2 linked regions of the Homo sapiens genome follow. The protein of the gene in region 2 purifies or fractionates together with the protein of the main gene of each other region. This does not show direct contact. Each region holds a gene or a part of one and is shown on either strand. Other genes may lie near its edges.

What was found.
Region 1: the proteins of DEDD (region 2) and RANBP3 purify together in Homo sapiens (affinity purification with mass spectrometry; one large-scale study listed by BioGRID and IntAct). This does not show direct contact.

Annotation. Positions count from the first base shown.
Region 1 is NC_000019.10:5,922,597-5,926,400, forward strand, and holds part of RANBP3 (ran-binding protein 3), read right to left. Parts: intron 3,142-3,804; coding exon 3,038-3,141; intron 2,310-3,037; coding exon 2,231-2,309; intron 1,319-2,230; coding exon 1,216-1,318; intron 708-1,215; coding exon 598-707; intron 1-597. UniProt on the Homo sapiens protein: Acts as a cofactor for XPO1/CRM1-mediated nuclear export, perhaps as export complex scaffolding protein. Bound to XPO1/CRM1, stabilizes the XPO1/CRM1-cargo interaction. In the absence of Ran-bound GTP prevents binding of XPO1/CRM1 to the nuclear pore complex.
Region 2 is NC_000001.11:161,129,738-161,134,197, forward strand, and holds the start of DEDD (death effector domain-containing protein), read right to left. Parts: upstream 2,931-4,460; 5' UTR 2,814-2,930; intron 2,710-2,813; exon of another isoform or gene 2,654-2,709; intron 1,111-2,653; 5' UTR 1,078-1,110; intron 1-1,077. UniProt on the Homo sapiens protein: A scaffold protein that directs CASP3 to certain substrates and facilitates their ordered degradation during apoptosis. May also play a role in mediating CASP3 cleavage of KRT18. Regulates degradation of intermediate filaments during apoptosis.

The sequences.
Region 1 (3,804 bases), on a different chromosome or scaffold from region 2:
ACAAGAGAATATGTTTGGTATGACAGTCTTTGTCATTCCCTGAACCATCAAAAATGTCTCGGGCTGGGCGTGGTGGCTCACGCCTGTCATCCCAGCACTTTGGGAGGCCGAGGCGGGTGGATCACATGAGGTCAGGAGTTTGAGACCAGCCTGGCCAACATGGGGAAACCCCGTCTCTACTAAAAATACAAAAATTAGCCTGGCGTGGTGGTGCACACCTGTAATCCCAGCTACTCAGGCGACTGAGGCACAAGAATCCCTTGAACCCAGGAAGCAGAGGTTGCAGTGAGCCGAGACTGTGCCACTGTACTCCAGCCTGGGTGACAGAGTAAGACATTGTCTCAAAAAAAATTAAAACAAAACAAAGAATGTCTCAAACAGATCCTCCTCCTCTGAAACCAAAGACATGCAAGAAGCCCCTGAGCCTAAGCTCTCTCTACAAACGCCACCAACAAAGTCCCAGAGCGTGGGGCCAGTGGCCCCTCCGTCATCTCAGGGGCAGGCCTGTGTGCTCAGAGGATGTGGGCCCAGCCCTTGCGGTTGGACCCCCAGGTGCATGGAAGACCCAGGGCCACCGAGGAGGGGCCGGCCCCTCACCTGTAACACATTGCTCTCCGCCTCCTCCCCGGTGATGACTTCCACTTTTTCCAACAAACACTTCCGCGCTGTTGCCTTGGTGTAGGCGGCTGCCGACTCAGCCAGGGACTCTGAAAAGTTATTGGCCAAAAAGACTGACTGATTATTTGGCGAGAGGAGAGCCATCTCCCCTCATCCGACAGGAGATGAGAGGGTTGGTTCTGGTCTCAAGGACGCCTGCTGCCCCTGGCAGGCCTGCCCCGGCAACCCAAGTGGACCCTAGACACAGCCAGAGCATATGGCCTCAGAAGCTGCAGGGAGACCATCTGGGGGCCAAGTGTGGCCCCAGACTCTCGTGTTCGTGCCGAGCAGTCGACGGGGGGACAGTGAGGGACTCCTCCACGCCTGCTGCCTGCGCCTCCCCACCCTCCCCACGGCCACAAGGCGACACAGGCCCTCGAGTTCTTTATCACAAACCCTTGCTCACTGCAAGGCAGGGCCCTGGAGCTGGTTCACATGTGGTTGTTACTGCTGCGGGAGTCGGGCCCCTTATCCCTCCCGGCTGGGGGTGTGAATGGACCCAGCATCCCCCAAGATGACCTACCATGAGCCCCATGCTGTGGTGGGACGCTAACATACCTTTCTCAGGGGTGGCCTCCTGGGACGAGGACTCAGACCCTGACTCGGCAGCTGCATTTTCCCTGTTGGCATCTGAACTGACCTCGTTTAATTTTGGGGGGCTCTGCAGGGACACAAAAGCATACAAGGAAGAGGGCACTTGTGTGGTCCTTCAGCAGCAGCTCTGAGCACCTCTCTGCCTGGCCCCCAACACTACGCTGCCCCCAGCACTCCTGCCCACTCCCGGTGACACCCTGAACTGCCTGGGAGCTCCCCACGTGGTCCCTCAGGCATCACTACGGGGTGAGTGCCACCAGCCGACAGTCCCCTCGAGCCACACTGGTCACTCCGTCTGGGTGAGGCAAGACTTTGAACATTTCATTGAAATAGAAAAAGCACAGCGTGGCCACGAAGGAAGAGAAGCTGCAGAGTACTTAATGCAGCCTAACTCCAGACAGAGCTAGAGTGACCAGGCGGCTCAGGACAGGCCCTCACGCAGTCGCAATGGAGCTGGGTGGAATCAGGAAGAAAAAGGAACATGTGTAAAGAGGTAGGCAAACCATTCTAGAACCCTCTCCCAGGCTGGCTGGGCTCCTGGGAACGGAGATGGGCCTTTCGTGCACCCAAGGCCTTGGCCGCGGTTATGCTCACAGGAGCAGGGAGGCCAGCAACCCTGTCCACCAGCACGGCTGGCTCCGTCCCACAGGACTTTTGTCAGTTGGCCTGGTGGGGAGGAACCATGGACCCCGACTGCCAGCAGGACCCTGCAGCCTCCAGGGAAGCCCATCTTGGGATGAAGTTGGCCCTGGTCAGCACGGAGGAGCCGGGAAAAGCGAATGCCAGTTCGTAGGCAGCCAGTGGCCCTGGCCAGTTTTCAGGCTGAGTCTGAGCAGGGTCTTCCCTCTCTCACTTGCTACTGAAGGCATCCCCATCTCACATAGGACGACACAGCAGCCCTGCTCTCCATGTCCCCTTGACCTGTGGCTGGCGCCGAGAGCCTCTGGTCCCTGAGAACATTCCCAACACAGCCACTCACCAAAACTCGCTCGCTCATGTTCTGGCCAAATACAAATTTGTTGCTGGAGGCGTCGGCACTATTGGTTGAGTTCTCTAAACTGAAGAGAAGATGTGCAATGAGTGTGGGGCGTCACGTGGGAACGTGGCCAGGCAAATGTATGGGTACCCATGGAGCACACACTGACACAGAGGGCACAGTGGAGGGGCCTCCGCCACTGTGCACGGGGTGGCGTGTCAGAGGCAGGAAGCCACACACCTCCCTGTGCCATTGAAAACATTAACCCTTAGCTCGCCCTGATGGAGGGGCCCCACAGCATGAGGGAAGCCACCTTCCACCTGCTCTACCCGCCCATCTCCCAGTCGGGACACGCTTTCTTCTGAGACACCTGGAGGGGCAGCTGGTCCGTGGGTAGCATTACCCCCAGCCATGTCAGTCAAGGACATGATGAGGTCTTTGCCCCAGGTGCCCAAACCCAGAATAAGGGGGCGCCTGAGTCGCCTCTGGCCTGCTCTGTTCTGCTCTGGGCATGAGGTCCACAAGACAGAGGGCACACTCCAAGGGCTGGGCTGTAGCCTCCATGGGCCCCTGGACAACCCCACAGAACTCTGGTCCTGTCTCAGGCGTCCAGTGAATCCCAGGACAAGGCCCACCACCCTGGCCCACCCAAGGTTGTGCCCAGAGTGGGGAATGAGAGAGAGGGGCCTGAGAGCAACCTGGATTCTGGGCCTGAGTCGGGCACGGGGACCACAGACCCCTCTCTGGCAGAAGCCCTCGCGGCCACCTGCATCGCCATGCCAGGCTGGCCGCTGACACCGAGACACACACCTGGAACTGATATACTGGAGGAAATAGTTCGTTGCGGTTGGCGTGTCTGCGCTGGGGTGTCCAGCATTCTCCATGTCGGCTTCGTCCACGCTCTCATTTATCAGCTGGGAATGAGACGGAGCGCTCAGTAATCGGGGGTGGGGGGGTGCCTGGAGTTCCACAGCTCAGTGTCTGCAGACCCCCTGAGCTGCATGGAGCTGCTCGGAGCCATGAACCCTCTCCTGTACCCGCCTGTGTGTGTGCGCGTGCATGTGCTGGGGGGCAGGGCTATAATCAACTCCATCACCTTTTGCTTTAACAGTTAGGATGGAAAGAGAGCTCATGAAGCTCCAAGGAGCCTTTTCCACCTTGTTACAAAACCACGCCTTGTTATAAAACCACGCCTAAGCTGGCCTCTCGGTCAATGCTTCATACCAATAACACAACGTTACAAAGCTGACGTTTTGGGGGGTTTACTATGAACATGATAGAAGCAGAATTTCTTGAGGGCCTCTTTCCTACCAGCTGCTATGCTGAGTCTGTCAAATGCACGATCTGCTTTAATCCTCACGAGGCCTGGGAGGGGGATGTTAGGGACCCTGTTTGACCAACAAGGAAGCAGAGGCTCAGAGGGTTAAGAAACCATGGCTCTGGCTGGGCGCGGTGGCTCGTGCCTGTAATACCAGCACTTTGGGAGGCTGAGGCGGCGGGGAATCACTTGAGGTCAGGAATTCGAGACCAGCCTGGCCAACATGGAGAAATCCCCACCTCTACTAAAAATACAAAAA
Region 2 (4,460 bases):
ATTAGAACTAACTCAAGTCTTGGTATCTGAAACACTGCCAAATACCAAGAGACGAAACTCCAGCACACAGAAAGTCCTGATCCCACTGACTGGTCTGGCTGTATTTGAGATAGTAACACATGAATTCTCCCCTACAGTTTCCCAAGAATAATTGATTCTGAGGAATTGTTGTATTTCCTGGAGTTTTGCTTTTTTCTTTAGAGAAGTCCAAGTCAGCCAAGGGCCAACAGTCTATAGGTATCTTCAGGATTTCCTCCTGATTGGTCCTTCTCTACTATGTTTCTACTTCCAAGCAAAGTCTGGTCTCATCCCAACCAGGAATATCTGTAGTTTTTGAGGTACTTGGCTCTCTCAGAAGCCCTTAGGGGAAAGCGACATGAAAGAAATAAAAAAGAGTGCTGTCTTGAAATGAAAATGACAGTCATCTTTTCTGAACAGGGATGATATTTGTAATTTCATAGAATTAAGAGATATCTGACTCTCTCAGAAGTCCTCAGAGGAAAAGTCATGCAGAAGAACTACAAAAAAAAGTGGTATCTTGAAACTTAAATTAAAACTACATAGAAAATCTTAAAGATGGTTAAGAGTACATTCTTGCTGGTGGGATAGGAAATGTAATCAAATATCTGGAAGTCAGAATTACATAGTATGTTTTCAAAAGAAGGATGCCAGGAACCCCCCAACAGCTGAAAGAGAAAGTTAGAGGAAAAGTTTCCCACGGAAGGAAGGTGTCCCAGCAACCCTCCAAGGGCAACATTTAGTAGACAATGTACTAGAATACAGCCTTCCATATGTTAAAAAAAAAAAATGTTTCAGAGCTGACCAAGAAGACTAGACAATAACAAACCAAAGCTGGGGGATTGTCCCAAGACATCTAAATCTCCTTCTCTTTCACCTCCTATCTCCAATTAACTAAAGACAGTGATTACAACAGATCTCATGCACTCAGATGGATGAATGATAACTCATTTTCCCTGGCATTCTCCTCCTCATTAATGGACCCAACCTCAAAATAACTCCCATGCTATTTCCATTCCCTTCCATTGTTTGAAAACAATAAAAAAGTTCCAGACTTACCTCCGCAAGAAACTTAATTTCCCAGGTCTCTTCCTAGCACAAGTTTCACAGCCAGCAGCAAAACAAAAACAAATAAGGAGGGGAAAATAATTAATTTTCAAGTTTTACTTTGAAACCTCAGAGGCCCATAGAATTAGACAATCTCGTTGCAAAAGTACACAGACAAGCCTAAAACCATTTAGAGAACTCACCCCCAACAAGTCTCCAGGCTTCCCTAACTCTCTATTAGTCAATTTACAAAAACAATACCAACTCCAAGAATTTCCAGTCTCAATGGCTTGCGGCAAGACAGCTCCCAAATTTAAGAACTTCTGGGAAAACCAATTACCCTCTGGCAGCTTCTCATCTTCCTCCACAATTCCTTATTCCTATTTTGTTACAATATTAACGTTAACTTTCACCTTTAGAAAAAACTGGGAGGAAAGTGGTTACAGCAGACCAGCACTATCCTCCAAATTCTACATTTGGCCCTTTCCCTTAACTAGCACACAATGAGAACAAAATATCTAATGGCGCAGCATCCACTCATACGTCTATGTTTCACCAGGGAAAAGTTTTTCTACATACAGTATCCATGTTACCCCCTCCCTTCCAGACTTAAAACAGCAAAAGGGTCTGGAAACTACAGCACTCATTTAATTAACCTGTCTAGATGCCACTCTATCTTTTCTCTTTCCCTCCTCAGACTTCCAGAGCCTCCACCTTAGCATATAGGGTTCCAATATAGCCATGTCTGCTCCCCCACTCTTGTATTGCTAATGCTAAAAACTAGAAAAGTCCTTTGCTCCTCCACACTTGGGCGACACCGGCTTCCCCATTTTCCCAAGCAGGAAAAACAAGGGAACAGTAAGCTAGGGAGTCTTTTGGAAAACAAACCCAGTTGAATTCTCATCCAACCCCAATTCTGCAAACCCACATGACCATTCCCTTCTGCCCTTCCCACCCTCTTAAAAGCTAAGGGCCTGGCAATTAGAATTGGCTGCAACTGATGCTGCTTAACTCTGTTCTCTCCTCCTCTCCACCGGGGAAAGGGAAACCCCCGAACCTCTATCACCCGTGCAGCTCCACTGTCCTATCTCCCATTCCACTCCCCTTCCTCCCAAACTTTCTTCCTCCCAGTCTCTCACTTTCTCCATTACCTCCTCCCACCGACACTCTCTCCATTCCCCAAGCCTCCGTTCTCTCCTTTTCCACCCAAATTCTCCCCTAGGCCCTTCCCCCTCCCACCTCCAATTTAACACTTTCGAAGCCCCCCAGAAACGTCTTAACTCCAATTCTGACCTTTACCCACCTCCTCGCAACACCCCTCATCAGAGTCCAGTCCTCCCTCCAACCACATGCCACAGCCCCCTTCCCCTTCACACCCTCAGCCTCTCCCTCCTGCTCCTACCCCCTTCAATACGAGCGGATCGCAGCCCCACTCCCCACCTCGGCCTCTCTAATACCCCTGGCTGGGCCCAGTCTCAGCCCTTGTTTACGCCCCTCCCCATGCCCTCACTCCTCCGTCTCGACCCCTGCCCTCTCCCGCAGTTGCCATCTCCCCTGCACGCCCCCCTCGGCAGCTCCCCTCCCCCACCTCTCAGCGTCCCGTCACCTCCCTCTCTTGAGGTTCTCAGGCTGGACGTCGCCACCGCCTCCCCCTCCACTTTCCTTCCCCAAGCCCTTTGCGGCCCCGCCCGGCCCCGCCCCGTCCCGCTCGACTCCCTCTCCCCACTCCGGCCGCCCCTCCGCCTCACTCTCGGCTCAGGCTCGGCGCCGCCATGTTGGATCCATCCGCGCCGCTCTCCCGGGCCTGCCTCACGGCGCCGCATCCGGGCTCCAGCAGCCGCCGCCGCCGCCGCCGCCGCGGCCGTGGGGGAGGGGACAGGCGGGCGGGGGTGGCTGCATCCTGAACGGCGCCTCCCGGAACCCGGCCGGTTAGTGGCGGCTTCGAGGCCATAGTGAGACATGAGCCGGAGTAGCCATAGTAAGTGAGGGCAGCCTGGCAGCGGCATTAATCGGGGAGTGGATAGCTTCACTTCGGGAGGAGAGATAGAGATTGGCAGCCATCTTGCTTTGGGGCAAGCTGGCAACGCCGGTTTGTCTTGACGGCTGCTTAGGGCGGTAATAAGGGATCGAAGAGGATAGCATTCTTGAATGGGAAACATTGGTGGCGCCACAGCTGGCTGGTGGCGACTTCAAGACCCACTGGAAGGCTGGGATTGGCAGCCATGACTCATAAGGGCGGAATACCACGGGGATCGGTTTGTCTGGCGAACTTGAGTGAAGGGTCAAGATCTGGATTTCACCTTTCCTCTGAGCTTCCTGATAACCCGGACGTTCCGTAAACCCGGATCCGGAGCCGAAAGTGGTGCCCAGATCCCGTCTCGGAATTCATTTGTTCAGCATTTACCTTTTGAACGCCGGTTTCCTGTAGGAAGTGTCGCCTAGCTGATCCGTGTAGGGCTGTTGGGAATTGGGGGTGGGGAGGATGGTGCGGGTACGTTCTGGTGTGGCTTAAGAAAGTGGTAATAGATAGGGGAAGACCAGATTATGCGAAGCCTTGTAAATTAATTGATTTTTATCCTTAAGGCAATGAAAAGTCTTTGAAGAATCTCAGCAGAGGTGTGAACAATTTCATTTGCATTTTAGATCGCTGCGTGCAGTGTGAAGGATGAATGAATTGAGGAGAATCAAGGAGAGCAGTTGTGAGGCTCTTTTCCAGGCAAGGATGATGATGGTCTGCCTGTGGAAGGGAGAGTGCGGATGGGGAGATACAGATTGGTTTAAGAGGTACGAATGTTGTGACTTGGACAACTGGGGAATAATGATACCAGTTTCTTTCTCGTTTAGGGGGGAGATAATGAGTTTTAGGTGCCCCTGGGATATTAGCTAATGTGGGTTGGGAACTCAAAAGAAAGGTTTGAGGTGTGTGTGCGTGTGCATATAGATAGCTGTTGAAGCCATGAAGTGGGCTGGAGAGGATACCTGCATTTGCGGGATAGGATGAGGGAAGCCGAAAAGAACACTGAGAAGGGGCAAACCGAAAGGAAAGAAGAAAACCATAGAGAACTATCAAGGAAACTGGTGAAAGCGTTTAGTGTAACAGAGATATAGTAAAATGCTAACTAAAATATATACATCAGGGCCGGGCATGGTGACTCACACCTGTAATCCTAGCTTTGGGAGGCCGAGGCGGGTGGATCACTTGAGGCCAGGAGTTCGAGACCAGCCTGACCAACATGGTGAAACCCTGTCTCTTCTAAAAATACAAAAAAAATTAGATGGGTGTGGTTGCACATGCCGGTAATCCCAGCTACTTGGGAGGCTGAAGCATGAGAATTGCTTGAACCCAGGAGGCAGAGGTTGCAGTGAGCCGAGATCGCGCCACTGCATTTCAGCCT